Linked DNA regions of Homo sapiens: all the other regions are linked to region 1. The links come from fine-mapping of genetic effects on gene expression. A gene starts in region 1. Each other region holds a variant in brackets. All regions are shown on one strand. Distances are between the middles of the regions.

Region 1 (4,084 bases):
TTTTTTTTTTGAGACAGAGTCTTGCTCTGTCAACCAGGCTGGAGTGCAGTGGCGGCTCACTGCAAGCTTCGCCTCCTGGGTCCACGTCATTCTCCTGCCTCAGCCTCCCGAGTAGCTGGGACTACAGGTGGCCGCCACCATGCCTGGCTAATTTTTTGTATTTTTTGTAGTAGAGATGGGGTTTCACCGTGTTAGCCAGGATGGTCTTGATCTCCTGACCTCGTGATCTGCCTGCTTTGGCCTCCCAAAGTGCTGCTGGGATTACAGGCTTGAGCCACCGTGCCCGGCCTTTTTTTTTTTTTTTTTGAGATGGAGTTTTGCTCTCTTGCCGAGGCTGGAGTGCAGTGGTGCAGTCTTGGCTCACTGAAACCTCCACCTCTCGGGTTCAAGCGATTCTCCTACCTCAGCCTCCTGAGTAGCTGGGATTACAGGTGCGTGCCACCACACCCAGCTAATTTTTTTGTATTTTTTAGTAGAGATGGGGTTTCACCATGTTGGCCAGGCTGGTCTGGAACTCCTGACCCGCCCGTCTCGGCCTCCCAAAGTGCTGGGATTACAGGCGTAGTAAACTACCGCGTCCAGCCTAATTTTTGTATTTTTAATAGAGATGGTGTTTCACCATGTTGGCCAGGCTGGTCTTGAACTCCTGGCCTCAAGTGTTCTGCCCACCTCAGCCTCCCAAAGTGCTGGGATTACGGGCATGAGCCACCATGCCCGGCCCTGTTTTGGGGGGTTTTTTGAGATGCAGTCTTGCCCTGTTGCCCAGGCTGGAGTGCAGTGGCACAATCTCGGCTCACTGCAACCTCCGCCTCCCAGATTCAAGCGGTTCTCCTGCCTCAGCCTTCTGAGTAGCTGGGATTACAGGTGCCCGCAACTATGTCCGGCTAATTTTTGTATTTTAGTAGAGACGGAGTTTCACTACATTGGCCTGGCTGGTCTCGAACTCCTGACCTCAGGTGATCTGCCTGCCTCGGCCTCCCAAAGTGCTGGGATTACAGGCATGAGCCACCACGCCCAGCCAGAAAGCCTGTTTTGTAACCCACTTTTGGTAGCCGTGTACGTGGGTGGCTTGGACAATATTTGTGGGTCCACTTGGAGGGAAGAAGGCCAAAAGGCTTGAGGGACATCTGAGTGGCGTGGAGGTGACAAGGCTCTGGGAGGGCAGCAGACACCCTCAACGAGGGTGGAAGGTCTGCTGGGACCAGCACTGCTGAGGCTCTGGCATCTCCGTACCTGTTTCTCCCATTTCCTCCAATGGCTCCAGAGTCCTTTGGGGGAAATACTGCTCCATCCAGACTCTGAGTGGCGTGGGCCAGGGCAGGGCATCATGGTCACCAGATGGCTCCCAGCACAGGAGAGGTACAGAGCCATCCCTCCAGGGTCAGCCTCCCTGGGCAAGCAGGCTGAGTCTACCTTGTCCGGGAGGGGAGGAGGCGCATCCTGAGGGCTTAGGGGGCGTGAGCGGAGGGGAGCTCAGGGTCCCTCGGTGGATGATGGAGGAGCCACATATGGGTTACAGGGACAGACAGAAAGATGGAGAGGAAGAGACAGGGAGGCAGACACAAGGTACACTGACAGGGTCTGAAGGAGGAGGGGCTGGGGGCCTGGACTCCTGGGTCTGACAGGTACAGAGAGGAACAGACACACGCTGAAAGAGACACAAAGAGAGAGGGGACAGGCATAGTGATTCACGCCTGTAATCCCAACACTTTGGGAGGCCAAGCGGGGAGGATCACTTGAGCCCAGGAGTTCGAGACCAGTCTGGGCAACAAAGTGAGATCCCCGCCCCATCTCTACAAAAAAAAAAAAAAAAAAAAAAAGAGGGTGGGGTGGGGAGAGGGGTGGAGTTGGGGAAATACAGAGACACAAATATTGCCAGAAACAAAAAACAAGAAAGGGCCAGGCACAGTAGCTCACATCTGTAATCCCAGCTCTCTGGGAGGCTGCTGAAGCAGGAGGATCACTTGAGGCCAGCAGTTCAAGACCAGCCTGGGGAACATATGGGACCGCCCCCCGCCACCCCTCTGTCTCTACTTTAAAAAAAATTTTTTTTAATTAACAAAACCTGACCAGGCACAGTGGCTCACGTCTGTAATCCCAGCACTTTGGGAGGCCAAGGTGGGCGGATTGCTTGAGGCCAGGAGTTCAAGACCAGCCTGGTCAACATGGTAAAATCCCTTCTCTAACAAAAAATACAAAAATTAGCTGGGCATGGTGACACGAGCCTGTAATCCCAGCTACTTGGGAGGCTGAGGCAGGAGAATCACTTGAACCTAGAAGGCGGAGGTTGCAGTGAGCTGAGATCGTGCCACTGCACTCCAGAAACTGATGGAGAAGAAACATGAAGGCGGGGAGAGAGAAACTGTCAGAGGGAGGGGGAGAGAGGCAGTCTGAGAGATAGAGACACCGAGGTAAACCCGCCTCCTTCCCCAGCCCCACAGGCATAAGTAGGCAGAAGCTCACCCCCACACTGACCTCCTTCTTGGTGCTCTGACAGCGGCAGCCGGTCCTCCCTCAGCTCTGCCCGCCTTCTCTCCTGCTGCTGGCCAAGCCCATTAAGCTGCTACCTTGGCCACAACTGAAGGCCCCACGCCCTGGGAAGAAAGCTACTGAAGAGGCGTCCCTGCTCCCCAGCACCCCAAACCATCAATTAATATTAACGAGGGAAGGCTCCTCATTGCCTAAAGACCCCACTGGGGCTCCAATGGAAGAGAGGCCCCGCCCCCGTGACTCAGGAGGTTAAAGGGCCTGGTGCCGGCTTGTGAGGCCAGTGTCCAGATGGCATCCAGCAGTGGGAGGGTCACCATCCAGCTCGTGGATGAGGAGGCTGGGGTCGGAGCCGGGCGCCTGCAGCTTTTTCGGGGCCAGAGCTATGAGGCAATTCGGGCAGCCTGCCTGGATTCGGGGATCCTGTTCCGCGACCCTTACTTCCCTGCTGGCCCTGATGCCCTTGGCTATGACCAGCTGGGGCCGGACTCGGAGAAGGCCAAAGGCGTGAAATGGATGAGGCCCCATGTAAAGTGTGGCTGGGGTCTGGGCTCTGGGGTCTGAGGGAGGAGGGGCTGGAGGCATGGACTCCTGGGTCTGAGGAAGGAAGGCTGGGGGCCTGGACTCCCTGGTCTGAGGGAGGAGGGGCTCGAGACCTGGACTCTTAGGTCTGAGGGAGGAGGGGCTGGGCCTGGACTCCTGGGTCTGAGGGAGGAAGGGCTGGGCCTGGACTCTTGGGTCTGAGGGAGGAGGGGCTGGGGACCTGGACTCCTGGGTCTGAGGGAGGAGGGGGCTTGGACCTGGACTTCTGGATCTGAGGGAGGAGAGGCCAAGGCCTGGACACCTGGGTCTGAGGGAAGAGGGGGCTGGGGACCTGGACTCCGGGGTCTGAGGGAGGAGGGGCTGGACCTGGACTCCTGGGTCTGAGGGAGGAGGGGCTGGGGACCTGGATTCTTGGGTCTGAGGGAGGAGGGGCTCGGGACCTGGACTCCTGGGTCTGAGGGAGGAGGGGCTGGGCCTGGACTCCTGGGTCTGAGGGAGGAGGGGCTCGGGACCTGGACTCCTGGGTCTGAGGGAGGAGGGGCTGGGCCTGGACTCCTGGGTCTGAGGGAGGAGGGGCTCGGGACATGGACTCCTGGGTCTGAGGGAGGAGGGGCTGGGCCTGGACTCCCGGGTCTGAGGGAGGAGGGGGCTACCATGGGACTGGCTCAGCACAACTTCTGGAGACCCAGGGAAGCCATGCTCCTGCCCACAGGCTTCCAGGCCTTTCATGGGCTTGGAGGCCCTCACTCCTCTGGATGAGACCTTTCCTCGCTTTCTCAGGCTGAGGCCTGGAATCCCCCACCACCCACAGGAGTTCTGTGCTGAGCCGAAGTTCATCTGTGAAGACATGAGCCGCACAGACGTGTGTCAGGGGAGCCTGGGTGAGACCCTGAACCCACCTGGAGTCCTCAGATCCAGCTAGTTTCAGCTGAGATCCTGACAGCTCCATCCCTTTGTCCACCCACTCCCGGCCCCTGGATCCCTCCTCAGTCTCTTCTCTCCCTAGGCCTCTCTCTCCCTCCTCCCTCCTTCCTTCCTTCCTTTTTTTTTTTTT
Region 2 (4,000 bases), 38 kb after region 1:
TTCAGGCAGTTCTCAGCCACGTGTGATGTGTGAGCGGGAGGGCACCGCCTGGATAAATTCAATTCCCACTCACAGGAGTGCCTCGTGAAATCTTTGTGGGGCAAACCAGGGCTTTTTCTCCAGAAAAATGCAGGTGTACTCTTTTCATACAATTTCCAGCCACCCACAGACCCTAGCTTAAGCCCCTTGCCCTAAAACCTGGTTTTCACATTGACTGGAAGATGTGGGCCAGGCCTGAGAGAGCACTGGGGACTGGGTAAGGGGAGCAAACCGAGAGGTCCCAGGTCCCAACCACCCTAAAGTGTCCCCCAGCCCCCTCACAGGCTCCCCACTGCTTACAGGACTAAAGCCCACTGCACTCCAACTCTCCCTGGCCGGGGCCCAGCTCTCTTGCTCACTGTGGCTGGAACGGGCTGGGTGCCATCTGGTGCCTCCCCCAGGAAGCCCTCCTCTGGCTCTAAGCTGCCTCTTCTTCCGGGACCTTTCCTGGCTCCTGCTCGCTCGGGGTACACTAGCCTCCTCCGCAGCACTGATCTGACCCCATGCCCTGCCACCCCATTCAGCCTGAGCACATGTACACGGCCTGGTGTGGTGCTTTGCTTTGGACACAATTTTTGTCCTGCCTTCCCCCACGAGGCTGGCAGCTTCTGGTGGCCAGGGCCTGGATCCATACAGGCTTTGTACAGGCAAATGACAGCAGGACCCTGCATGGGCAACATGGGCTTGTGGTGATGGTTTGGAATTCCTTGCCCTCTGCCCCTTTGGGCAGAGGAGGTTCTAGAATCCAGAAGATTGAGGAAGGGGAGTTATAAAGCATGGCTGGCCAGGCCCTTAAATAACCCCGGGTTGGTTGCAGTGCCATGGAGGGAGACTGGACAGTCCACGAGGGGAATAAGGGAGGTGAGAGTCAGCCACCGAGCCAGGGGTTGCGGAGAGCCTGCACAAGGCTCTCCCAGGCTGCCCATCTGCGTGCAGAACCCAGATCTGGAGGCTGGCGATGGAAGGGCATGGGGATGGTGACCCGGAGTTAGGGGGTCAGACAGGGCACGTCTGTGGGCCATCAAGGGGAGCTGGAGACACTCACCTTCCTCAGCTTGTCATACTCAATCAGCTCTGGTCTGTGCCGGTGGATCAGGGCATTGAAGGCAAGACCATCCTTCCAGCTGGGGAAGGAAAGGCAAAGGTTATAGGAGGGCCCGCTCACTGTCATGAGAGTGCCGTATGGCCCTGTGCACCCACAGCAGTGACTAATTCCCATTCACTGCAGTCTGGCCTGTGCCAGGCACTGCATGGAGACAGTGTGGCAGAGAGGCTGCAAGCATGACCTCTGGGGCCAGGCAGTCTGTGATCAAATCCTGACTCTTCTGCCTACTGACAGTGTGACCTCGGGTAAGCCAGGCTATCTCGGTTTCCACATCTGTATGATGGGGATAGTGACATACCTGCTACATAGGGCTGTTGTGCGGATTAAATGAGTAAATGCTTGGATCAGTGCCTGACTCCTGACAACTGCTTTATAACTGCTAGCACCTTCCATGGGAGGCCGCCCTGAACCAGACAGGCCGCTTCGGGGGAGGTGGCCACTGCAGGATGCTGGTGTTTGTGCTGTGTGGCCTCCACACCCTGGCGGACCTGACTTACAGGAAGGCCAGTCCGTGGGCTGGCTAAATGCCAGGATTTCACTTGGCATGCTGGTCTCTGGAGGAAAGAGACCTTCCCCAAGGCCACAAGTTGGTCAGTTACAAGCTATATGGGTCACATTCTCCTCCCTGAGACCCTCTAAGGGTTGGTTCCCTCTGAGGTCAAGCTCGATGTCACCTCCTCAGAAAGGCCACCCAGGGAACTTTCTTCATCTGACTTCCCTGTCTTTGTGCAGCACTTCTCACTGAAGTTATGCTGCAGGATTACTGGCCGCTGTGCTAACAGCTGGTCCCC[G/A]CGCTGTGGTGTAAACTTCCCACAAATGGGAACTTTGTTTGGGTGCCACTGTATCTCCACTAACGGCATGCAGCGGGCATGCTAGATACTTACTAGTTGAAGAAAATGAATGGAAACTATAGAAAGATTCAGTCAGTTAGTGGCAGGAAAAAAAAGAAGACACACAGAGAAGAGTGACCAAGGGAGGGACCACATGCTATCAGGGTGAGCACGATGGGAAAAGCCCTCTGTACCCAGCAAGGGTCCCAGAGAGCCTGAGGCCGCTGCAAACCCCATGAGGCCCTGCTCTTCATTCCTGTGCGGGCCATCCAGGAGACTCAGAGGGTGGAGCCACAAGGCAAACCGGATCTGACCTCAGGACCGCCCCCAGAGCCAGTGCTCCCAACCACCAGGCAGGCCTGCCTCTTGCCGCCCCCTGGACCTCATGCGGCAGTGCCCATGCTCGCCTCAGCTACGGGGATGGTGGACATGTCTCATCTCCCGCTCACCCTGAGGGAAGCAGGTTCATGGTGGAGCTGAGGCTTGTTCATCTTAGCAGCCACAGAGTACATTTTTCCCCAACACTAAATTTACTAGCAATTCTAAAAACAATTCACTCCTGAGCTGTCAAAATAAAGGAAGAGGCCAGAGGCAGGCAGTGGCTCACATCTGTAGTCCCAGCACTTTGGGAGGCCGGGGTAGGAGGACTGCTTGAGCTCAGGAGTTCAAGTCCAGCCTGGGCAACATAGGGAGACCCTGTTCCTACTAAAAATAAAAATTAAAAATTAGCCAGGTGTGGCTGCATGCACCTGCAGTCCCAGCTACTTGGGAGGCTGAGACAGGAGGATCACTTGAGCCTAGGCCAAGGCAGCAGGGATGAGTGATCACACCACTGCCCTCCAGTCTGGGTGACAGCACAAGACCCTGTCTCAAAAATGAAAAGCTTTATTGTTGCTTCTGAGAGTCACCTTGCCTGGGGACGAAGAACGTTCTATTAGGCCGGCGAGAGGGCTGACCTTACTGCCTTCAGCCAGGATGGCTGGGAAACTGCCTCCTCTTCCTCAGAGAGGACCAGGTGACCTTCCCATGGGCTTGTAGGGCCCGTGGCCAGGGAGGGGCTGACTGAGGGCTGGCATCTCACAGACCACGACAAAAACACAGCAAACAGGGCAGGTGGGAGGAAGGATCTCAGGTTCCTAGAGGAAAGGAGAGGATGACCAGGACTGGCGCTTACCTGATGTGGAAGTTCTGCACATTGACGTTCTTATACGGGGCTGTCTTTCTCTGGCACCAGAGAAGGAGCCCTTCCTTGGCCGAGGTCTCTGCAAAACACACAAAGACAGTGAGCACTGGCTCAAAAATAAACCCTCAGAACTCAGCCCAAGTTGGATGGGACTTTCGGCTCAGGCCTGGGGTCAAACGAAACCCAAGGGGAGAGGATATCTGTCCTAACAACAGCAGCAGTGATAGCAGCGGGACAGCCACTCCCATTCCGGATGCAGACGGATGCTGCCAGGCCCAACTGCCAGGACACACGGCCCTGCTTAATCCTCACGGCCCCGAGGAGAGTCGCTTGACCAGGGCTGCCCCAGGAGGTGGTGGTGTCAGGGCCTGAATCTGTGCCATGTGCCTGGCCACCAAGCCTGTGCCTTTCACCACCAGAACACACTGCAGACAGGCCCTTGATACCGGCCTTGGCCTCTTTTGAACAAGGTGAAATACCAGCTGTAGAGAGGCCTAGGGGGCCCTTCTGTTCCCCGTGGATAGCTCGGCTGTCCTCACAGACCGGGAGCCCTTCGAGGGCAGGAAGCACATCTCTCCCAGTCATCACTGCGACCTGGCACCTGGGAGCCCCTGCACGCTAGCCCAGGTGGCTCTGCCCATCCTGTGTGCACACAGGTGCTTGCAGGGAAGCGAAATTGTCCATTCCTGGACGGCCTGAGCTCATAACGGGTCCATGGGGGCCAAGTTTCAAGGATGGGGATGTCAAGCAGACAGAGAACCAGGCCCAGGCCCAACTCTCTCACTAGTCTGTTCTGGGACTTGGGTTCCTGGACTGTAAAACGGGCCCAGCCATCCTAGCCCA
Region 3 (4,000 bases), 57 kb after region 1:
CTCTCATGGCCAACATGGTGAAACCTCGTCTCTAACTAATAATACAAAAAGTAGCCGGGCATGGTGGCGCACGCCTGTAGTTCCAGCTACTCAGGAGACTGAGGCAGGAGAATCGCTTGAACCCGGGAGGCAAAGGTTGCAATGAGCCAAGATCGCGCCACTGCACTCCAGCCTGGGCAACAGAGCGAGACTCCATCTCAAAGAAAAAGAAAAAAAAAATTAAAAATTAACTGGGTATGGTGACTCTTGCCTGTAGTCCCAGCTACTCAGAAGGCTGAGGTGGGAGGAACACTTAAGCCTGGGAATTCGAGGCTACAGTGAGCTATGACAGCGCCACTGCACTCTAGCCTGGGCGACAGTGAGACCTTATCTCAAAACAACAAAACAAAACAAAAAACCAAAAATACAAGGAACATGTCTACCACCGCAAAACTGGTACAGTTACTCTCCAACCCCACTTCCCTCCTACCCAGCCCCCAGCCCCTGGCAACCACTAACCTACCTTTCTTTCGTCTCTTGCAATTTACCTATTCTGGGCATTTCATATAAGTGGAACCATATGGTATATGATCTTTGAGTTTGGCTTCTCCTTAGCATGTTTTCAAGGTTCAGCCATGTTGTAGCATGTACCAGTACTTCGTTCCTGTCTGAATAACATTCCATTGTATGGATATACCACATTTTATTTATCAATTCATTGGCTGATGGGCATTATTTGTGTTGCTTCTATCTTTTGGATATTAGCACCACCGTGAATATTCATGTACAAGTTTTATGTGGACATGTTTTCAACTGCCTTGGGCATATACCTAGGAGTAAAATTGCTGAGTCATATGATACCTCTTATATTTAAAAATTTGAGGAACTTGGCTGGGCGTGGTGGCTCATGCCTGTAATTCCAACACTTTGGGAGGCTGAGACAAGACCAGCCTGGGTGACATGGTGAAACCCCGTCTCTACTAAAAATACAAAACATGTTTAAATTTTGAGGAACTGCCAGACTGTTTTCCCAAGAAGCTGCACCACATTACACTTTGACCAGCAATGTGAGGGTTCTGATTTCTCCCATCCTAGTCAATACTTATTATCTGACTTTCTGATTATAGCCATCATGGTGGGTGTGCAGTGGTATCTCATTGTGGTTTTCTGTTTTTTTTTGTTTTAGGGTTGGGGTCTTACTCTGTTGCCCAGGCTGGAGTACAGTGGTGTCATCATAGCTCACTGCAGCCTTGAACTCCTGGGCTCAAGCAATCTGCCCACCTCAGCCTCCCAGGAATATGCTACTACACCTGGCCAATTTCTCATTTTTATTATTATTTAGAGACAGGGTCTCACCCTGTTGCCCAGGCTGGAGTGCAATGGCGTGATCTCGGCTCAATGCAACCTCTCCCACCCAGGTTCAAGCGATTCTCCCACCTCAGCCTCCCCACTAGCTGGGACAACAGGCGCCCACCACCATGTCCAGCTAATTTTTGTGGGTTTTTTTTTTTTTTTTTTTTT[G/TTG]GTAGAGACAAGGTTTCATTCACCATGTTTGCCAGGCTGGTCTCAAACTCCTGACCTCAGGTGATCCACTCGCCTCGGCCTCCCAAAGTGCTAGGATTACAGGCATGAGCCACCATACCCGGCCTAATTTTTTATTTTAATTCTCTGTAGAGGCAGGGTCTCACTATGATGCCCAGGCTGGTCTCCAATTCGTGGCCCCAAGCCATCCTCCCACTTCTACCTCCAAAAATGTTGGAATTATGGACATGAGCCACCAGGCCCAACCACGTTATGGTTTTGATTTGCCCTAATTAGTAATGACATTGAACACCTTTTCATGTGCTTATTGACCATTTGTAGTGGTTATGGTTTTGATTTGCCCTAATTAGTAATGACATCGAACACCTTTTCATGTGCTTATTGACCATTTGTAGATCTTCTTTGGAGAAGTGTCTATTTGAATCCTTTGCCCATTTTTAACTGGTGTGTCTTTTTACTGTTGAATTTAAGAGTCCTTTATACATTTTGGACAGTAGACCCTTATCAGATATACAATTTGTAAATATTCTGCGGGTTGTCCTTTTACTTTAATAGTGTCCTTTGAAGCAAAAAGTTTCCAGTTTTGAAACAGTCTGATTTATCTATTTTTCTTCGGTTGTGTTTCTGCTGTCATATCTAATAACCATTGCCTAACCCAAGGTCATGAGATTTACACTTGTGTTTTCTTCTAAGAGTTTTACAGTTTTAGCTCTTACATTTAGGTATCTGATCCGTTTGGAGTTAATTTTTGTATATGGTGTGAGGTAAAGGTTCAACTTCATTCTTTGCAGATGGGTATCTATTAATAGTTGTTCCTGCACTATTTGTTGAAAACACTATTCTTTCCCCCATTGAATGGTCCTGCACCCTTGTTGAAAATCAATTGACAATAGATGTATGGGACCTGGGAGCTTTTTAAAAATACCTGAATTTCACCACAGGCAAAATGAGACAGATTCCCTCAAGGTGGGCCCTGGGCAATGACATTTGACAAAGTCCACCTAGTGAGTCTAACATGAAGTGAGGGCTGAGAGCGAACAATCTAATCCAACCCCCTTGTTCCATAAATGAAAGATCTGAGGTCTCAGTAGAACCAGAGGGGCTGGGTGCAGGGGCTCACGCCTGTAATCCCAGCACTTTGGGGGGGCTGAGGCAGGTGGATCATTTGAGGTCAGGAGTTCAAGACCAGCCGTCTTGAACTATTAGTAGAGACCAGCCGTCTCTACTAATAATACAGAAAAATTAGCCAGACGTGGTGGCACACGCCTGTAATCCCAGATACTCAGGAGGCTGAGGCAAGAGAATCGCTTGAGCCCAGGAGGCGGAGGCTGCAGTGAGCCGAGATTGTGCCACTGTACTCCAGCCTGGGCAACAGAGTGAGACTCTGTCTCAAAAAAAAAAAAAAAAGAGACTCTGCCACCAGATTTGTTAGACTGGAATGGATGCTTGGAGCTAAAAGAAACCCCAGGGTAAAGGGGGATAGGCGGCCCGGGGTAGGAGCTGCTCCCATCTGAGCCTGCCTCTGTTCTCAAACAGACTTCCGGAGCCATCCCACACATGGGAAACCAACCAACCAACCAACCAACCAACCCAAACCACTCAGATTATACGTCAAAGAACTGGGTTCTCCCCAAGGGGAAGAGCCTGCACTCCCCACACAGAGTCCAGGAAGAGATAGGTCTCAACCCAAGGCAGGTGGGGCCCACAGAGCGGGAGGCAGTGCTCAGCCCTCCAGGCAGAGCTTCTCACCAGGAGGAGGAGATGGTGAGGCCTACCTTGAAATAACTACCTTTAACAGAGGAAACTTACACTCCCAAAAGGCAGTTTTAAAATTAGGGCAGCAGCAGAGGCTGGGGCCTCCTCTGGCCCCATCTAGCATTTTGCTATGAAATGATCAGGCACACGGGGCCCTTCACCTGGAGAACAGGGAGGGTGAGCTACAAACACCCCATTTACTTTCAATGCTTACAGCTAAGCTCAGGTTTCAGGGTGGGGGTGGGGGACTACAGATCATCTGGTTTAAACTTTGATCTTTCAAAAAGATAGCCAAGTAAGCCAATTCTGGCCTTGAGACAGTGTGGCCTGGAATCTTAGCGAGTGCCTAAGGGGCCCAGTCTTTAGAATTAACGTTTTAGTCTGGACAAATCCGCCCAGGGATTTGTTCATCCAGACAAGAGGCCTTTGGCATTTGGGGAGAAAAGGTCAGACAGGGCACTGATGGGATTGTTATTTAGGCAAGTGCTACACACCCGTCCTGAGCTAGTGGGACCCCGGGAATTCCCCAGTAGATCTTGCCAGGTGCAGGAACTGCCACAGGAAAGGGGTGTCTGGAAGCAGGGCAAACACTCCTGTTTCTCCCTCTGTTCAATCTCTCCAGCAGATGGCTTGTTTTTTTGCTAGTATTCAAATGATCCGTAAACTGGGCCCTGCTGGTGGAAGGGTGAATATGCGAGGCCCTGGAGTAATCTTTAATCGTGGTAAG
Region 4 (4,000 bases), 47 kb after region 1:
ACGGGTGTATGCCAACATGCCCATCTAATTTTTGTCTTTTTAGTAGAGATGGGGTTTTACCATGTTGGCCAGGCTGGTCTTGAACTCCTGGCCTCAAGTGATCTACCCGCCTCGGTCTCCCAAACTGCTGGGATTACAGGCGTGAGCCACCACACCCAGCCCTATCCTTCCTATTTTTAAGACTCAGTGCAGCTTAGAGGAGGCTGGAAGGCAAGTGGGAGGCAGGCCCCCTCACCGGGGTCAGGCAGCCGCATCTAAGGAGAATGTTTCTGATGATCAACTGGAAGGGATGGAGGGTACTAAACAAGAAGCCGAAGTCCCTGACCCTAACAGACCAACGATGCTGACAGGGCATGGGTACACCCAAGCACAGGGCACGCAGCCTCCTGGTGGTGCCCGGCTACTCAGCCCCCTGCAAGCTGGGGCATGCTCATAGACATCAGGGCCACAGAAGATCTCAGATCAGTTAACACCAACACGCCCAGGCGCCTTCAGGGAAACCAGCCCACGCACCCTCCTGCAACAGGACCTGGGAAAAACCCCAAGTGTCTGCTTCTTATAGGAACCCCTGTACCCCACCCCCTCCATCTGCAGGGGCCAGTGTAGAAGCAAGCAGACAGCCAGGGACACACAAGAGCACATTCCACGCCCCGGGTGCAGGCGGAGGCCATGCGGAGGACAAGGGGCTTCTACGGGGGCTCTGACCAAGCACCATGTGTTTTGACAACTGTCGCCAGCCCTGCTCATTCAGGGAGACTCGACACAAAGCCCCCTCCCAGACAAAGCAGCTGCCTAATTAATACGCCATACCAGTGTGGACCCAGCATGGGGCTTCCTTCCAAATCCGAAAGGGGGCAAGAGTGGACAGCTAGACCATCCCCCACCACCACCTCTCACCATGGAGAATTCCTCTACCTGGGAGACAGAGACCCCTCCTGGTGGCACAACGCTGTTCCCCCACTAAAGATACCTCCGCCCCGCCATGTAGCCAACCCTGGGCACCCCTCAAAAGTCAGGCCAAATGCCGTGCCTGGAGGGTACCCGCACCATGGCCTCCCTGACCCGGTTCTGCCTCAGACAGCCTCCTCCCTGCAGACCACATCACGCCCTTGCTCTCTGGTCTCTAACAGTTCTTGTCTCCAACAGTTCTTGTCTCCCTCCCTCCCACGGCTATGAACTCCTTGAGGGGAGGGGAGCCAAGGCAGGTTCTCACTGCGGAGAGTACTAACTCACCTTCCCAGCCTCCCCCATACAATACTGAATTCAGAGAGCCCAGGGCGGGAACCATGCTTACACCACTCATGTGGGCACGTCACCTAACCTTCCTAACTTCCATTTCCTCCTCTGCAACGTGGGGATGAAGACCCCACCTAGGCCACGGGCAGTGTGAGGACTCAAGATGGCCATGCCTGCAGCGTGCATGGCAATGCTCAGGAAGTGGCAGCTCTCTGGATGGCCCTGTGCCTCCCAGCATCTCCTCCCTCCCTGCCCTGGTCTCAGGAGTCCTGCCCACCCCCTCCACAGTGTGCCTGCTCTGTCCCCGGCCCACCCTCAGCACCTCTCCCGTAGCAACCCCCAGTCACTTTTAGTCTTATTGGATGTTGCATGCACATGAGCTTTCTCTCCTACCATGTGCGAGCTCCAGGGGTTGGGAAGTACGGCGCCTGCACCTTTACAGCCCCAGAGCACTGCCAGCCTTGATGGCAGGCAGCAAGCAGGCGTGGAGCCCAGGAGCCCAGCAGCCCTGCAGAGCAAAGGGCAGCAGCAAATGGGCTGGGAAGGAAGTGGCCACGGATGCTAGGCCTCTACTCTCAC[A/T]TGTGCCTGAGAGCAGGCACTGCTGGGCAGCAAAGTAGCCAAGACACATCCCACAGCCTGAGGACAAAAGAGGGCTGTTCCCCGAGGGCAAGGCCCCGTGCTCTGGTGTTGCCAGGCCCAGACCTAGGCACCTGGGCTGCAGGGAGGGCCACGCACGCGTGCAAACAGCACCCCTCACAGCCTTGGCCTGTGTGGGCTGCTCCTGCAGGCTCTGCAGGGGCACAGACCTGGGTTTGGGTTTGAATACCTGCCCCTTGGCTTACTCATTCCATGTTTTCAACCAAGTGACTTTACCTACTTAAGTCTGTTTCCTTCCCTGTAAGATGGATTTATCAGAATCTACCTCCTGCAGTGTGCTCTAAGAATTAAACTAGGGAAAATACATTTAAAGCATGTGACAGGCTCCTTGGCATAAAGTAAGAGCCAGATGAATCACACGCATGTGTGTGCATGTACACACGCACATAAGCACGTGCTGAGATCCAGTCTCTTCTCTGCAAAGGCTCTCAGACCACCCACTGGTATGCAGGGAAAATGGGATGGCAGGAGACCCTCTGCGGATGGCCCCACCCCACCCTGTGGAGGCTGTGAACAAACCTCGCCGCTTGGGTTCTGGCCACCTGTCCTCAGAGGGGCTGCTGCCCTACCCGCCCTCCATACGTACATCCCACCTGTGCTCATCTTCTCTGGGTAGTAAACAAGAGCTCTGGCTTGGGCATCACACAGGTGCGGATTCACATCTTGCTTCTGCCACTGAGGCCTCAGGCAAGCAATAAGCCTCAGTTTCCTCACTGATAAACAGGACAGTAACCGAGAGGTTAAGATAGGGATTAAACACAAGGACACATGTCAATCACTCCGTGCTGTGTTAAATGCATGTCAAAGGAAGGTTTGCTCTGAAAGCAATGGTAACTCTTCCGTGTACTCTGTCTTCCTGACTGACACAGGCAAAGCCCCAAGCACAGGTGCTCAGGGAGGATGCCCACTCGCCTGGCCTGGATGACGCAGAAGGGAACTCCCACCCAGATCCGGACCTGACACAGGCTTGGGGAACCCCACTGATGCACTCCTGTTCTCACCCCATGTCTTGCTTTGCCCTGTTTTGTCCTCCTGGAAGATGAGGGGCATCTATTGACATCAGAGGTTCACAAAGCCCTCAGCTCTGGTGAGGAGAGCCTGCACTCACAAGGCCACCCTTGGGAACAGGTCGACCATGACGGCCACTTCTCCATGCGGAGAGACTGGTGAGTAGGAGCTGGAGTTCGAATGGGACATTAAAAATTCATCGCTTCTTCTACTTGGTTACAAAAATAACACTCTGCTTCCATCCTTCCTCTCCCTACCCGGTTTAGACTACGCTGCGTGGGGTGGATGGTGTGGAGAGGTGGTTTCTATAGATGGGGGCCCTATGCGCCCACCACGCCGCCCTCCACCATGCAAAATTCTCAGAATGTGGGCAGCCGACCTCATGATGCCCCAGGCCACCATGGGTCCGTACATATTCATTCTCTGGACAAGCATATGCTGGGGGTCAGCAGAGGGCCAGGCCCTGTGCTGAATCCATAACAGTGAGCAAAAGCAGACACTCTCATGAGGCTCCAGGTCTGATCTCATTAATCAAGCGATCAGTCCACTCCAGAAATAACGCCCTTAGGAAAAGTGGTAATAATAACAGCAATAACTGCAGCAGACACTTCCATAGAGTCTACTAGGGGCGGGCACTGCTCGAGGCACTTGGTCACTTACTAATTCTGTCACCCTCGTAATCATCTCTGGAGGGAGGTGCTAGTACTGCCTCCATTTTGCAGATGAGGAAACGGAGGGCCTGAGAGGTGAAGTGGCTTGCTCCCATCAGTCACACACCTAGAAAGTTACAGAGCTGGGTTTAAAGCCAGGTGCTGGGCTCCTGGGGCCGAGTTTGTGTCACCTCCCCTGGGATGGGAGCTGAAGAGTGCGGTCAGCATGGTGGCGGGGTGGGGGGGCACCAAGCGACTGGTGAGGCAGACACAGAAAGGTGTCCTTGAAGAAGTCATTCTCAAACTCTGAGCTGAAGGATGAGGAGTTAATAAGATAAAAATGAGGGAGACCTTCCAGATACTGGGAAGAGCATGTGCCAAAGCCCTCCTGCAGAAGGGACAGAGCCCACTCCGAGAAGGAAGGGAGTAAAGAAGTGAGGCTGGCATGC
Region 5 (4,170 bases), 100 kb after region 1:
ACACCAGGTGCCAAACTCAGCCTCTGATGAGGCCTTTGTACTTGTGAGGTGGAGTCACGACTCCCAGGAACACTTTCCCCAGACACTGAGTCCCTAGGGCTCACAGCCCCATTTCCTATAGGTCTCTGTGGAAATACCACATCCTCAGTGAGACTTTCCCGGATCACCTGATTTAAAATATCATCCCATCGGGCATGGGATGTTCAAGGCCAGCCTGGCAAACATGGTGAAACCCTGTCTCTACAAAAAATACAAAAGATTAGCCAAGTGTGGTGTTGCATGCCAGTGGTCCCAGCTACCTGGAGGGCTGAGGCAGGAGGATCACTTGAGCCCAGGAGGTCGAGGTTGCAGTGAGCTGAGATCGCACCACTGCACTTCAGCCTGGGTGACAAAGTGAGAACCTGTCTCAAAAATATAAATAAAATAAAATATTGCCAGGTGCGGTGGCTCACGCCTGTAATCTCAGCACTTCCGGAGGCCGAGGCAGGCGGATCACAAGGTCAGGAGATCGAGACCATCCTGGCTAACATGGTAAAACCCCGTTTCTACTAAAAATACAAAAAATTAGCTGGGTGTGGTGTCACGCGCCTGTAGTCCCAGCTACTCAGGAGGCTGAGGCAGGAGAATCACTTGAACCCAGGGGGCAGAAGTTGCGGTGAGCTGAGATCGCACCACTGCACTCCAGCCTGGGCAACAGAGGGAGACTCTGTCTCAAAAAAAAAAAAAAAAAAAAAAAAAACCAACCACCATGGTTTATGGTTTCTCCAGCTATGGGAGTTGCAAGGATCCTTCTCTGCTTCTCTGCCTCTGCCAAAGGAACGCGAAGGGATGGATCCAGTGACAGCAGAGGAAGGGGACGAGGCCCAGGCAGCAGCCCGATGTCCTAGGAGATGCCAGGACCTGGCCAAAGACCCCCAGGCGTGTTGGCTGTTTCCAGAGCTGGGCTGGAGTGGGGCAGGGCAGGGCGGTCTCCTCCAGCCTGACTTGAAGAACTAGCTCAGGACTCTTATGCATGGTCTGGCCTGGGGGAAAAACTCCTCAGGGGATGGGCCATCTGCCCCTCGCTGCAGCTCCTGGTGGACTCTGAGAAACCGTCCAGACCAAGTGCTCCCAGATGGAGGCGACAGCCCCAGCCATTGAAGTTTAAATTAAAGCCTCCCTTTAATTGTCAGCCTTGAGGCTACTTCCTGGCAGCCATCTATGGGCAGTGTAGTAATAATAGCTGATGTGTCTATTGATGTCCAAGGGACCAGGAGGGGCTCTGAGAGAAGGGGTATGGCCAGTGGGCCCTACAGGCGTTTTTAGGTTTACCATTGAACCCGTGAGACCTCAGTCAGAATTTATTAAATGCTGTATCCCATTGTTAACACTACTTCAGGGAAGGCAACTAGAGAGGGTGTGTCCTCACAGGGCGGGGACATGAACAAATACTGCAATGTCTAGAGATGTCTCAGGAAGCAGCTGGAGCAGCAGCCCTGAACCCCAAGTGAGCATGACAAGCACCCACCAGGATGGAATTTGGAGACAGAACCAATTTGAGTTTCTTTTATTTTTATTTATTTATTTATTTATTTTGAGATGGAGTCTCGCTCTGTCACCCAGGCTGGAGTGCAGTGGCACAATCTTGGCTCACTGCAACCTCCACCTCCCGGGTTCAAGCAATTCTCCCACCTCAAGTGTCCTGAGTAGCTGGGATTACAGGCACGCGCCACCAGGCCTGGCTATTTTTTTTTTTTTTAAGACAGAGTTTCGCTCTTGTTGCCCAGGCTGGAGTGCAATGGCGCGATCTCGGCTCACCCCAACCTCCACCTCCCAGGCTCAAGTGATTCTCCTGCCTCAGCCTCCCGAGTAGCTGGGATTACAGGCGTGCGCCACCACGCCTGGTTAATTTTGTATTTTTAGTAGAGACGGGGTTTCTCCATGTTGGTTAGGCTGATCTTGAACTCCTGACCTCAGTTGATCCATCCGCCTCGGCCTCCCAAAGTGCTGGGATTACGGGCATGAGCCACTGCGCCCCGGCTATTTTTTAATTTATTATTTATTTATTTATTATTAGTTTTTGAGACGGAGTCTCACTCTGTTGCCCAGGCTGGAGTGCAATGGCATGATCTTGGCTCACTGCAACCTCTGCCTCCCGGGTTCAAGCGATTCTCTTGTCTCAGCCTCCCGAATAGCTGAGACTACAGGCATGCGCCACCACACACAGCTAATTTTTGTGTTTTTTAGTAGAGATGGGGTTTCACTATATTGGACAGGCTGGTCTTGAACTCCTGACCTCATGATCCGCCCACTTCAGCCTCCCAAAGTGCTGGGATTATAGGAGTGAGACACCACGCCCAGCTTATTTTTTTGAGACAAGGTCTCACTCTGTCGTCCAGGCTGAAGTGCAATGGCGTGATCTCAGCTCACTGCAACCTCCACCTCCCTGGTTCAAGCTATTCTCCTGCCTCAGCCTCCTGAGTAG[C/T]TGGGATTACAGGCACCCGCCACCAAGCCCAGCTAATTTTTGTATTTTTAGTAGAGGTGGGGTTTCACCACGTTGGCCAGGCTGGTCTCGAACTCCTGGCCTCAGATGATCCACGCGCCTTGGCCTCCAAAGTGCTGAGATTACAGGCGTGAGCCACTGCACCCACCAAGCTGTTCTAAACTCTTTGCAGGCATTAACTACTGACGTGGGTACAATTACTACTTTCCCCAGCTGTAAAACAGGTACAGAGAAGACAACTCACATACCCTGAGGCGGCTGGGCTGGGGAGTGAACTCAGGCAGTTTTTCTCCAGAGCCACCTCCTAGCTGTTCGGAGTATGAATGACCCTCTGATAGTGAAAGCAGCCCAGTGAGGCAGGATGAGATGTGGCTCCCAGAGGAGGGGAAAAAGGTCATTTCCTCTTCCCTTGCAGAGCAGCCATGGCCAATTGTGCAGGTTGTATCCTGCATAAGGGCACCTGCCAAGTGGGTAACTGGGAGTTGTCCCCACCCAGAAGGGGTGCCTTTTGCTAATGTGCCCAAGTTCATGGGTGGTAGAGGCATCCCAGTCCTTTTTATTATTATTTTTTTGAGGCAGTTTCGCTCTTGTTGCCCAGGCTGGAGTGCAATGGCGCGATCTCGGGTCACTGCAACTTCTGCCTCCCGGGTTCAAGCGATTCTCCTGCCTCACCCTCCCAAGTAGCTGGGAATACAGGCGCCCGCCACCACGCCCGGCTAATTTTGTATTTTTAGTAGAGACGGGGTTTCACCATGTTGGTCAGGCTGTTCTCAAACTCCTGACCTCAGGTGATCTGCCTACCTCGGCCTCCCAAAGTGCTGGGATTACAGGCATGAGCCACTGTGCCAGGCCTCCCAGTCCTTTTTATCCCAGTGAGCTGCAGAGGCACACTTTTGTTCAGTCCCCAGGATTTAGGCACTCCCTGGCTACTGGGGCCCTGCTGAGGTCTGGGCCCCAGGGCAAGGGGTGTCTGCTCCCACAGGCAGGGCCCTCTGAGGAATGCTGGCTGTGAGTGCACACAGGGAGGTCAGGCCGGCTGGCAGCTTGGGTACCACAGCTGCCCTCTCCAAGGCAACGCTTATGCACACCAGCATCCATCAATAAATCACCAAGGGGCAGCTGCCAGTCTACTCTAAGTAATGAACATCTATTAGGGCATTTCTTTTCCTTTTTTGGAGACAGGGTCTTGCTGTCACCTGGGCTGGTGTGCAGTGGTGCAATCATAGCTCATTGCAGCCTCAAACTCCTGGGTAGCCAGGACTACAGGCACATACCACTGTGCCTGGCTAATTTTTACTTACTTACTTTTTTTTTTTAATTTATTTTTTTGAGACGGAGTCTAGCTCTGTCGCCCAGGCTGGAGTGCAGTGGTGCGATCTCAGCTCACTGCAAGCTCCGCCTCCCGGGTTCATGCCATTCTCCTGCCTCAGCCTCCAGAGTAGCTGGGACTACAGGCGCCTGCCTAATTTTTTTGTAGTTTTAGTAGAGACGGGGTTTCACCGTGTTAGCTAGGATGGTCTCGATCTCCTGACCTCGTGATCTGCCCACTTCGGCCTCCCAAAGTGCTGGGATTACAGGCGTGAGCCACCGCGCCTGGCCAACTTACTTATTTTTGAGACAGGGTCTCACTCTGTTACCCAGGCTGGAGTGCAGTGACGCCATCTTGGCTCACTGCAACCTCTGCCTCC
Region 6 (4,170 bases), 180 kb after region 1:
TCCAAGTGCAGCTCTGCTTGTCCCCAGGGCTTCCCACCACCTTGACCTCCACATTCCCAAGGCATTCCCAGCACCAAGGGCCTGAGGATGTTTGGGGTCCCTTCCTCCACGGTGTACTTCATTCCCACAACGAGTATCTCCGAGGGTCTTTTCCTAGTGGCCCTGACCCTGTCTCGGGACTTTTTTTAGTCTTGGTCTTTCTTTTCCTTTTTTTTTTTTTTTTTTTTTTTTTTTTTGAGACAGAGTCTCGCTCTGTCGCCCAGGCTGGAGTGCAGTGGCACCATCTTGGCTCACTGCAACCTCTGCCTCCCGGGTTCAAGCGATTCTCCTGCCTCAGCCTCCCGAGTAGCTGGGATTACAGGCGCACACCACCATGCCCGGCTAATTTTTATATTTTTAGTAGAGACGGGGTTCCACCACGGTGGCCAGGATGGTCTCAAACTCCTGACCTCAGGTGATCGGCCCGCCTCGGCCTCCCAAAGTGCTGGGATCACAGGTGTAAGCCACCGCGCCTGGCTTAGTTTTGGTCTTTCCTGCCCTCTAATTTGGTCTCTGGGTTTCTTACTCTCTCTGGCTCTGCAGGTATCATTTTCTCTACCTCTCCGGGCCCTGCACTCTGTCCGGCCCTGCACTCTGTCCGGCCCTGCACTCTCTCTCCCCGGCCCTTTCTCCAGGTCTCCATCTCTGAGTCTCTTTCTCTGTGGGTCTGAGTATCCCTCTGTCTCTGAGCGTCTCTCTTGCCCGGCGCCCGCTGTCCCCGTGTGCGTCCTCCATGGGTGCGTCCTCCGTGGGTGCGTGTGCCCATCCCCCTAGCCAGTTCTCTCCTCTGTGTGTGTCTCCACCCAGCCGGGCTCTCTTCCTCCCTCCAATCCCCCATCTTTCCAAAACCCCAAAACCCCGCCTGCTCTCTCACCCCCAATTTCCTCTTGAGGATGGGAGAGCCCTCGGGTGTGGGCGGTTCCGCAGGCGTCGTGTCCCCCATGTCCCCGAGACCGCCAGCCCCTTCGGGCCGGAAGGGGCCCCCATCGGTCACGGCCACCGCCCCGTCGGCACCGCCCGGCCCGGCCTCGTGCACCGCCTCCTCCTCGTCTCCAGCGCCCTCCGCGGCGTCTCCAGCGCCCTCGCTGGCACCCTCGCCGTCTGCGTCTCCGCCCGGCCCGGCCGGCTGCTCGCCGTGCACCTCGTCGCTGGTGGGGTCGGGCATGCCTGCCAGGAGCTCGGTCACCGTCACCTTCTTGGCGCCCTCCACCAGGCCGCCGCCGAACAGCGAGCCCCAGAGCAGGCCCAGCGCGCCCGCCGCCGCCCCCGCGCCAGCGGCCCCAGCGCGCGTCACTGCTGCCCAGAGCAGCGCCGCCACTGCGGTGGCCGCCTCGCGGGCCGTAAGCCGCCGCAGCCGCCGCACGCGCCGCCGCAGGCTGCGGTAGCTGAGGCCTCGCAGGGCCCGGCCTGCGGCCGCCACAACCCGCGCCGTCGCCCCCGCCGCCGCCGTGGCCGCCGTGCCCTCGAGCCCCGCCGCGCCCTCCTCCGCGCCTTCCGCGCCCGCCTCCGCCGCGCCCGCGCCCTCGTCCTCGTCGGTCTCCGGCTCGCCCTCGGGCTCCGAGATCTGCGCGGCGATCTGCATCTCGAAGATGGTGTCCTCGCAGAAACTCACGAAGAGCTCCATCTTCTCAGCCTCGCCGCCCTCGTTCACCACGTCGAAGATGAACTGGCGCTTGGACTCCTTCACCTGAAGCGAGGGGCGGCAGACAGGATAGGGCGCCGTCAGCGGGGGCTCGGACAGCAGCGACAGCGCAGTGGCAGCTACAAGGGGTCACCGCGGCAGGCGCTGTTCTAAATGCATTGTTGGTATTTTGTTTTTGAGACAGGGTCAGGCTGGGCGCGGTGGCTCCGCCTGTAATCATAGCACTTTGGGAAACTGAGGCTGGCAGATCACTTGGGGTCAGGAGTTCGAGACCAGCCTGGCCAACATGGTGAAACCCCC[G/A]TCTCTACTAAAAATGCAAAAATTAGCCGGTGTGGTGGCGCACCCCTGTAATCCGTTACTCGGGAGGCTGAGGTAGGAGAATAACTTGAACCCGGGAGGCGGAGGTTGCCATGAGCTGTGATCGTGCCACTGCACTCCAGCCTGGGCAACAGAGTGAAAGTCTGTCTCAAGAAAAAAAAAAAAAAAGACAAGATCTAGCTCTGTCTCCTAGGCTGGAATGAAGTGACGCTGTCTCACTGTAACCTTCGTCCCCAGGGTTCACATGATCCCCATGCCTCGGCCTCCTGAGTAGCTGGGATTACAGGCGCCTGCCACCATGCTGGGCTGAGTTTTTGAATTTTCAGTAGAGACAGGGTTTTGCCATGTTGGCCAGGCTGATCTGGAACTCCTGGCCTCAAGTGATCTGCCCGCCTCACCCTCCCAAAGTGCTGGGATTACAGGCATAAGCCACCATGACTGGCCTGCTAATTTCTAAAAAAAATTTTTTTGCAGAGACAGGGTCTGTCTGTGTTGGTCAGGCTGGTGTCGAACTCCTGGCCTCGAGCAATCCTCTGGCCTTGGCCTCCCAAAGTGCTGGGATTACAGGCAGGAGCCACAGCGCCTGGCCAAGTTGTTGTTTTGATTATCAATAGCAAACCTATAGAGAGAGCTTTATAGAGAGCACTCACTGTGGGTACTCCTGTAAATGCTTCAATAAGGCCAGGCCCCATACAAGCAGTTTCCATAAAACTCATTTAATCCTCACAAACAAGCCTAGGGCTAGCGGGTTTTCTTCCCATTTTATAGATGAGGACAGGGAGGCCCAGAAAGTTACATGCCCAGGTGACACAGACAAGGTGGCACATATAGGATTCGAACCCCCAGAGAGCTGGCTCCAGAATGGATGTGTTTAGCTTCCTTGAGAGGAGGAGCATAGTGCTTAAAGGCAAAGGCTCTGCAGCCAGCCTGCCTGGGTTCAAATCCTGATTCTGCCACTGAGTAGCTGGGTGATTTTGAATTAACTCTCTGGACCTCCGTTTTCCCCTCTGTAAAATGGGCATAATAGGACCTACATTATAGGGTTGGTGTGAGGGTTAAATGAGTTAATAGATGCTGCATGATTAGAACAGCGCCCGGTGCCTGATAAATGCTGTATAGTGGGCAGGCCACGGTGGCGCACACCTGTAATCCCAACACTTTGGGAGGCCGAGGCGGGCGGATCACCTGAGGTCAGGAGTTCAAGACCAGCCTTGCCAACATGGCAAAACCCCGCCTCTACTGAAAATATAAAAATTAGGTGGGCATGGTTGCACATGGCTGTAATCTCAGCTACTCAGGAGGCTGAGACAGGAAAACCGCTTGAACCCAGGAGGTGGAGGTTGAGTGAGCTGAGATCGTGCCATTGCACTCCAGCCTGGTCAACAAGAGCGAAACTCTGTCTCAAACAACAACAACACCGTAGTGTTACCTATTATTATACTGCCCCACAGGTGCTCCAAGGCCACATGGGCATACGTGGATGCCTGAGAAGCAGGGGAAAGTGGAATGGGAAGGGGTGAGCAGAAGGAAGCGGGTGTTTGGAGGAATAGCACTAAGGCAAAGAGTGTTTGTATGGGGAGCACGCAGGGTCAGAGGAAGAGAGGAGGGCAGAGCTCCCCCAGCACGTGCAAAGAATGAGTGGGAAGGGCCGTGGTGAACAGGGGCTTCCTGCAGAGGCAGGGATGTGTGGACATCCTGGGTGCCAGGATGCTGCAACCACTTGTGTGCCAGATGGGGGTGTGTATGCAGTGGGGCCCCGAGGGGCACAGATGAGTGTGCAAGATCTCAAGGGTTCCTGCGGAGTATGTGAGGAGACACCGGGGGCCAGGGAGGGATCAGGAGTAAGGAGGGCGTGGCGGCATGGGAAGATGCCAAAAGTGTGCAACCACGAGAGGCTCAGTGTGCACGGTGGACGTGGGCACACGGGGCAGGTGTGCAAGGGCCTGGGACTCTGTGGGGGGACAGGAGGAGTATGAGTGTGAGAGGGGCCTGCAGTTATGCAGTGTGCGTGAGGCAGGCATGAATGTGGGAAGGGGAGCCAAGGGTTTGTGTACTGGCTCCCAGAACATGAGGACAGGGCTCTGTGTGGGACATGAGCCCGCGTGCATGAGCTGGTGTCCCCTGAGGAGACATATGAAGGGCCCACTCATGAAGGAGGTGACGGGTGCGCA

What was found. PIP is the estimated chance that this variant, and not a neighbour inherited with it, causes the effect.
Region 2: its variant is fine-mapped to the expression of CAPN12 in whole blood (TOPMed, PIP above 0.99). The same link has a PIP of 0.9 or more in T cells and blood mononuclear cells.
Region 3: its variant is fine-mapped to the expression of CAPN12 in whole blood (INTERVAL, PIP 0.99).
Region 4: its variant is fine-mapped to the expression of CAPN12 in whole blood (TOPMed, PIP above 0.99).
Region 5: its variant is fine-mapped to the expression of CAPN12 in whole blood (TOPMed, PIP above 0.99).
Region 6: its variant is fine-mapped to the expression of CAPN12 in whole blood (TOPMed, PIP above 0.99).

What each region holds. Positions count from the first base shown.
Region 1 is chr19:38,742,860-38,746,943 of GRCh38, reverse strand. CAPN12 (calpain 12) reads left to right here and starts at 2,470. Exons shown (of 21, transcript NM_144691.4): 1 at 2,470-3,015; 2 at 3,842-3,911. The coding sequence starts at 2,779.
Region 2 is chr19:38,705,280-38,709,279 of GRCh38, reverse strand. ACTN4 (actinin alpha 4) reads right to left here. Exons shown (of 21, transcript NM_004924.6): 5 at 3,149-3,236; 6 at 1,085-1,163. The region is part of intron 1 of LOC107985291 (a long non-coding RNA gene); the gene reads left to right. Among named protein-coding and RNA genes, the nearest start is that of CAPN12, 37 kb to the left of the region's middle. RefSeq lists enhancers at 690-1,476, 3,896-4,000. The variant G/A (reference allele first, on the strand shown) is at 1,936.
Region 3 is chr19:38,685,891-38,689,890 of GRCh38, reverse strand. The region is part of intron 1 of ACTN4 (actinin alpha 4); the gene reads right to left. Among named protein-coding and RNA genes, the nearest start is that of ACTN4, 40 kb to the right of the region's middle. RefSeq lists an enhancer at 3,856-3,915. The variant G/TTG (reference allele first, on the strand shown) is at 1,501.
Region 4 is chr19:38,695,634-38,699,633 of GRCh38, reverse strand. All of the region lies in intron 1 of ACTN4 (actinin alpha 4), which reads right to left. Among named protein-coding and RNA genes, the nearest start is that of CAPN12, 47 kb to the left of the region's middle. The variant A/T (reference allele first, on the strand shown) is at 1,816.
Region 5 is chr19:38,639,204-38,643,373 of GRCh38, reverse strand. No RefSeq gene overlaps it. Among named protein-coding and RNA genes, the nearest start is that of ACTN4, 6.4 kb to the left of the region's middle. RefSeq lists an enhancer at 2,771-3,709. The variant C/T (reference allele first, on the strand shown) is at 2,465.
Region 6 is chr19:38,562,515-38,566,684 of GRCh38, reverse strand. RYR1 (ryanodine receptor 1) reads right to left here. Exons shown (of 106, transcript NM_000540.3): 91 at 914-1,726. Among named protein-coding and RNA genes, the nearest start is that of MAP4K1-AS1, 32 kb to the left of the region's middle. RefSeq lists a silencer at 1,004-1,073. The variant G/A (reference allele first, on the strand shown) is at 1,982.